Homo sapiens: one gene and its partner. The protein of the gene in region 2 purifies or fractionates together with the protein of the main gene of each other region. This does not show direct contact. Each region holds a gene or a part of one and is shown on either strand. Other genes may lie near its edges.

Region 1 (3,607 bases), on a different chromosome or scaffold from region 2:
GGTATGCATCTGGAAGCGTCTGGGCCTTCTTTGCTTGCTGTTGCCATTGCTGTCTCTACCAGAGGGCAGGCAACACAGCCAAGGGTAGAAGGGCACAAAGGATGGCGGAGGCAGTCCATCTATATTGCACAGATGCGGTCCATATGGATCAGCCTCCCAGAATGCAGAGCTGGCGGGGAGAGGGTGGAGAGAGGATCTGGAGGGACAGTGGAAGATATCCAGCACAGGCCATGAATAGCCTTGGCCCTGGGCCCAGGGGCACCTGACAAATATCATTTCCTGTGTGCCAGGACTTGAAAATGTTGGGAAGTGCTGTTTAGCCTTAGAACACTGATGCATTTACTGATAAGAGCTCATAAGAGAGATGGCCTTTCTCATGGGGCCATAGAACACTACCCCATACACATACACACACACACACACTCAACCACCTCTTGATTAATTAGCAAGGGACATCCTTGGATGTGGCTGTGGCTGTTCATGTGCTCTCGTGGGTATAGAGAATACCACTCAACTATATTTGAGCAGATGCCGTAGCCAGAAAAACGTCAGCCTTCTTCATTCTGTGACCACAATGAGTCACAGGGAGGTGTAGCTAGAAAACTCAAGACTCAATGCAAGTGGAGAAGATCCTCATTTTGTTCTATGAGGCCCCAGCAAGTAGAGACCAAGAAGGCCAGAACACCTTTGAGCACAGAGCAAGTTGGAAAGGTGGCAGGTGGAAAGCTTCCATGTATCAACACCTGTGACCTGGTGGGGCCTGGGTAAGGTGAAGCTGGTCTACCTTAGGTGGGAGCTTGGTGAGAACAGGGACTGGCAGGGTGGGCAGGTGCTCATGGGGAGGCCAGGGCAGAGCTGTGTGGAACTCGGCACTTTGGCCAAGGCTTTTAATGAAGGTGCCCTTGATGAAGATGAAAAAAAAAAACACATATCCTATAGAACAGAGGTCAGCAAACTCTTTCTGTAAAGGACAAGATAGTAAATATTTTAGGCTTCAGTGCCATGTGTTATATGCAGCAATGGCTCACCTCTGCCATGGTGGCACAAAGGAAGCCACATGCGATATGTAAACAAATAAGCATGGCTGTGTTCTAATAAAATTTTATTTACAAAAACAGGTGACAGGATATATTTGGTCTGTGAGCTACAGTTCACAGCACTACCCAGTATGGTAGCCAATAGCCACATATGGCTAATGAGCATTTGAAATGTGCTCTGAGGGTAAAATACGCACCAGATTTTGAAGAGTTTGTAAAATAAAAAAGTTAGCCATCTCATTAATAATTATATTGAGGATATATTGAAATAATATTTTGATATAGCTAGTTATATAAAATACATTATCAAAATTAATTTCACCTGTTTCTTTTTACTTTTTTAAAAAATATGGCCACTAGGAAATTTGAAGTCACATTTTTGGCTCACATCATATTTCTACTTCACAGTGATGCTCTCTCCAGAAAAAATACAGGGCAAGCCTCTGGCCCTTGAAGGGTCTCAGGTAGGAGATTTACCCTTAAAGAGGCGCAATAATGGAATTCAAATATACATAATAAAGTGTATGATAGGAATAGATTTTTCAATATATTACGTATCTTTTTTAAAAAAAATAAGCTATTACAGGAGGCCAAGACGGGCGGATCACAAGGTCAGGAGATCGAGACCATCTTGGCTAACACAGTGAAACCCTGTCTCTACTAAAAACACAAAAAATTAGCCGGGTGTGGTGGCGGGCACCTGTAGTCCCAGCTACTAGGGAGGCTGAGGCAGGAGAATGGCGTGAACCTGGGAGGCAGAGGTTGCAGTGAGCTGAGATCATGCCACTGTACTCCAGCCTGGGTGACAGAGCCAGACTCCGTCTCAAAAAAAAATAGGAAACAAAAAATAAAATAAGCTAGTTTTTTCTGCATCTGTGCTCCTCAAACTGGGAGTTATAGAGCTCTACTTCCACAAGATATTGGCCAGGCGAGGTGGCTCATGCCTGTAAATCCAACATTTGGGGAGGCTGAAGCAGGAGGATCACTTGAAGCCAGAAGTTCGAGACCAGCCTGGGCAACATAGCAAAATCTGACTCTACAAAAATAAAAATAAAAATAATTAGCCAGGCATGATGGCAAGTGCCTGTAGTTACTCAGGAGGCCAAGGTGGGAGAATCACTTGAGCCCAGGAGTTTCAGGCTGTCATGAATTATGATTGTGCCACTGCACTCCAGCCTGGGTGACAGAGCAAGAATCTGTCTCTCTCTCTCTCTCTCTCTCTCTCTCTGTATATATATATATAAAATACATAATATATATATAAAATATATAATATATATTATCTCTCTGTCTCTCTCTCTCTCTCTCTCTCTCTCTCTCTCTCTCTCTATATATATATATATATATATATATATATATATATATATGTAAAACCATTGCTCAAGAAAGGGATGTCTTTATAGTAAAAAGAAATAGGAGTAATGCAAACTTAAACATTAATTTAGTGTTTCACTGCAGCAGAATTTCTCAATTCTTCTAAACTTGCTCATGCGTACAGAGCTATTGTGAGAGAAAGCAAGAGTAGGCAATGCTTCCCCACCTTACTGGCCTTAGAAGCCATTTTTGCAGAACTCTAATTAGTATGTTTAGCAGGCAATTTGAGGGGCTGGGCACGGTGGCTCACGCTTGTAATCCCAGCACTTTGGGAGGCCGGGGCAGGTGGATCACCTGAGGTCAGGAGTTTGAGAACAGCCCAGCCAACATGGTGAAACCCTGTCTCTACTAAAAATACAAAAAGTTAGCTGGGCATGGTGGTGTGTGCCTGTAGTCCCAGCTATTTGGGAGGCTGAGGCAGGAGAATCACTGGAACCACAGAGGCAGAGGTTGCAGTGAGCCAAGATTGCGCCACTGCGCTCCCCTGGGAGACAGAGTGAGACTCCGTCTCAAAAAAAAAAAAAAGAAAAAAAAAGGCAATTTGAGAAATGCTGGTCTGCATAATGCTACACAATCAGTGTGCTGCATGATTTTCCAAAAGTCCAACTCAACTGGCTATCATTTTGCTCTATCAGTAAAGCCCCAAGAAGCACTGTATCAATAAGGCCACATTTAGTACAACATGGGATAGTGAGGAAACTGTTGACATTTGGAGGCGCAAAGACTTGAGTCAGATTTCTCTTCCTTTCTTTCTTAGATAGCCATTCTTGTAAAAGCACCTACTATGTGCCAGGCAGCGCTTTAGGCTTTGGGCATGCAGTGGTGAATGAAAAGAGGTCCCTTCTTCTTGGGGCTTTACGGCTAGAGCAAAAGAACAAATTATAAAGAAGACAAATAGTTAAAACATAGATAGGGATTAGTTGCAAGGAGAAAATACAGAGCAGAGAAGAGGGCTATGCAGCGGGGCGGGGCAGGGATGATCATGGAAGAGCATCTGGGAAGGCCTCTGGGAGAAGGTAACTTGTGAGTAAAGATCCAAAGGAGGCTCTGAGGCCATGATCAATCCTCGTCTGTGTATAGATAATCCCTTCCTTCTGAAGGGGATTCCTAAAGCCCAAAAGAGCTGATGTATGTGAGGGTCCAGATAGAGGCTAATTGCTTATGAAGGGTTCAGAATTCACTCCTTTGCCTCCCAT
Region 2 (3,607 bases):
TACTGTTTCACATTTACAGTGAAAATAAAACCCAGCTATCATACTGAAGGTAGATTGGACTGTTGTTTCTTCTTGAAGTATCTTCTGAAAATAAACACCACCAAATTTTATTAGTACATTAGGAGCTTAGCGTTTAATGCAATATTATATATGTGTTAATACCTCTCTTCTGGTATTTTAATGGCAAGGATATTGGATTCCGACTCGACTCATTACATACCATCCTGCAACAGGAAGTCCTGTTACAAGAGGATGTGGAGCTGATTGAGCTACTTGATCCCAGTATCCTGTCTGCAGGGCAATCTCAACAACAGGAAAATGGACACCTTCCAACACTTTGCTCCCTGGCAACCCCTAATATTTGGTACTGTCCAGAAAACACCTATTCTTTGACTGCTTACATACAGAGTATTAGCAGAGGAAACCCATCATTGTGCTCTCCATTGTAAAGGCATAAACATTCCATACATTTAGCAGTACAATTAAAGTAACAATATGGGGGGAAAAAGTGCCTTTCTAAAGTAAATACTATTTAAAGTGAAGCTAGGGAAAAAAATCCAATTTGGTTATTATATACTTCCAACTCATTAAAATTAGTTCTGTGCTCAGCAACCTAGCAAATGGGTATAACAAGTGCCAAAAAGTTACTCTGCCAGGTGCAGTGGCTCATGCCTGTAATCCCAACACTTTGGGAGGCTGAGGTGGTAGGATTGCTTAAGGCCAAGAGTTTGAGACCAGCCTGGGCAACGTAGCAAAATCCCATCTCTACAAAACATGAAAAAATGAGTTCAGGTATGTTGGCATATGTCTGTAGACCTAGCTCCTTGGGAGACTGATATGGGAGGATTGCTTGAGCCCAGCAGTTGCAGAGTGCAGTGAGCCGTGATCACACCACTGCACTCCAGCCTGAGCAACAAAGCGAGACCCTGTCTCTAAGGGGAAAAAAAAAAGAATTTATTTTACCCATACACCTATTCACATGTGTGCATGCAAACCTAACCTTCTTTGTGTTTCTTTATAATTAATAGGTTTTATCGTAACTATATTGTAGAGACACCAAGAATAGGATGGGACATGGAGGTAGGCAGTTGATTCTGGCTGTGTTGGCTGAGAAAAGATCACAGGGAATGTGATTTGATGATTCATTCAGACCATCCTAAAACTTTTCAACCTCTTGAACTATTTGGGTCTAGAGCAGAAGTCCCAAGCAATAATCTGTTAAAAGAAAAAAAAAGAATGTGTAGCAAAAAGCGATTATATATAAAAAATTATTGATGTCTTCTTCCTGTTAAAGTACTTTATTAAATTTGACATAGAAGGGAGGAATGAATCAAGAAGTACACTAAATCACTATTCAAACTGTTCAAGTTATATAGGCAGTTACATTCATTGGCCTCAAGGTTCTGTATTTATGTCTTCCCTGTCACACTGACAAATGCTTCATTCTGCAGTCACTCAGATATGATCATGAAGAAGTAAAGCTTCTTATCCTTCAAAAATACAAGAATTTAAGGAGCTGATAGAAGGAACCATAGGTTTTAAGAATTTACTACTTTACTAACTTTCCTTTACCCACAAATATAATCAAGCAACTATGAGACCTATAAATGATTTTAGAGTTTACTATTAACATACAAAAGTATATGATGAGATTTTGCTTTATGGTATTGCCAGTATTATCTGAAAAGTAAAGGATTCTAAAGGAAATTAGGGCAAATATTTATTTATTTACTTATTTTTTGAGACAGGGTCTCTGTTGCTCAGGCTGGAGTACAGTGGTGTGACCTCAGCTCACTGCAGCCTCAGCCTCCTAGACTCAAGTGATCCTCCTGCCCTAGCCTCCCAAATACCTGGGACTATAGGAGCATGCCACCATACCTGGCTAATTTTTGTATTTTTTTCAGAGACAGGGTTTTGCCATGTTGCCCAGGCTGGTCTTGAATTCCTGAACTCAAGTGATCTGCCTGCCTCAGCCTCCCAAAGTGCTGGGATTACAGGCACGAGCCCCTGCACCTGGCCAGGGCAAATATTTAATAAGAAATTGCATGTGATTTTCTTTGCAATATGATTATTATAACTCTTTCCAAATATTGCTGTTTTTCAGCTATTCTCAGACACATCCCCCTTATACTCCCCTCTTTCTTTTCTTTTCTTTTTTTTTTTTTTTTTTTTTGAGACAAGGTCCTGCTTTGCCACCCAGGCTGGAGTGCAGTGGCATGATCTCGGCTTACTGCAGCCTGCTCAAGTGATCCCTCCGCCTCAGCCTCCGAATAGCAGGGACTACGGATGCATGCAACCACACCCAGCTAATTTTTAAATTTTTTGTAGAGAAGGGGTCCTACTGTGTTGCCCAGTCTGGTCTCGAACTCCTGGGCTCAAGTGGTCCTCCCACCTGTGCCTCTCAAAGTGCTGAGATTACAGGCGTGGGCCACTGTGCCTGGCCCCCTCTTTCTTATATATACACATTTTCACCAAAGCATTCATTGCTTTAAAGATGTATTTTAGTCTGTTAGACTTGCAATTGATATGAATTTTAAAATGTGTACATATTTTTGTTTCAATTAAAGTAGTATAAAAGTACAAACCTTGTCCATATCATGGTCTGTGGTAAGTATGTATATTCCAAATTGATGATGATTATTTAAAATTAGAGGACTTTATTCAAACAATTACTCATCAAGTGTGTATCATTTCTAATTGGAAAAATGTGTACATATTCTTGATCTAGTATGTGTTTCTATGCAAATAAAGTTTGATTTTAGGAAAAGGGATTTATAATATCTCTGAAATAGTATTTTTACTTTTAAATCTATAAAATCGGATTTTAAAATCTCTAATTTGCTTTTTAGGTTAAGGATTCCATATATTTTTTATTTTTTTAAAAGTGGTTTCAGAAGATGCCTATTGTTATATTTATTATCATTTTTATTAATGTCATAAAGAGAAATGTAGCAATTTCTTTGGGGTCACAGAAGAGGGGTTGGCTAAAATTAGAAGTAACTATTTCAAGCTTTTGGCAAAATCTTCACAGAAGACTTGGTGTCAGAGGAAGGTTTGAACGCATAGGATTTTGGTATTAAATATAAGATGACACCAGGCAAAAAGGAAAGAGAAGGAAGAGATGTTCTGGTTTACAATGCTTGGAGTTGAGGGCTGGGATGCTGATCTGACTCAAGACATGTTCTGGGCCAACTTCTGAAGGATTTTGTAGACTGAGCTAATGAAGTTTGATTTTATCCTGCAGGCGATGGGTGGTATTTCTAGCTCCAGATTCTGTATATGTAGGAAATGTAGAGGCCTTTTGTTGGTTCTGCCCAGCATTCAGTCAGCACCTACAGAGAATTTGAGTTTCTTTTGTGAAATCAGCTTTACCTGATTCCAGAAGATACCTGTTTTCTTACTTAAATTTATCAGCTCAGATGTTAATACCTAAGCACTATTGTCTAGTTGCGAGGTATTTTAAAAATCTTTCACATCACCTTCTTAAATGTCATATATTTTTAAGTTATGCTTTACAAAGAAGCTAGCATTTTATTTATTTAGTAAACCTAAATTTAAATTTTGTTTTTACTGATTAAAGTAATTCATCTTTCTTTCTCTAATCTGA

Evidence for each region. The genes of interacting proteins can lie anywhere in the genome.
Region 1: the proteins of VEZT (region 2) and LRFN2 purify together in Homo sapiens (affinity purification with mass spectrometry; one large-scale study listed by BioGRID and IntAct). This does not show direct contact.

Annotation. Positions count from the first base shown.
Region 1 is NC_000006.12:40,433,812-40,437,418, reverse strand, and holds part of LRFN2 (leucine-rich repeat and fibronectin type-III domain-containing protein 2 precursor), read left to right. Parts: intron 1-3,607. UniProt on the Homo sapiens protein: Promotes neurite outgrowth in hippocampal neurons. Enhances the cell surface expression of 2 NMDA receptor subunits GRIN1 and GRIN2A. May play a role in redistributing DLG4 to the cell periphery.
Region 2 is NC_000012.12:95,262,718-95,266,324, forward strand, and holds part of VEZT (vezatin), read left to right. Parts: intron 1-188; coding exon 189-364; intron 365-3,607. UniProt on the Homo sapiens protein: Plays a pivotal role in the establishment of adherens junctions and their maintenance in adult life.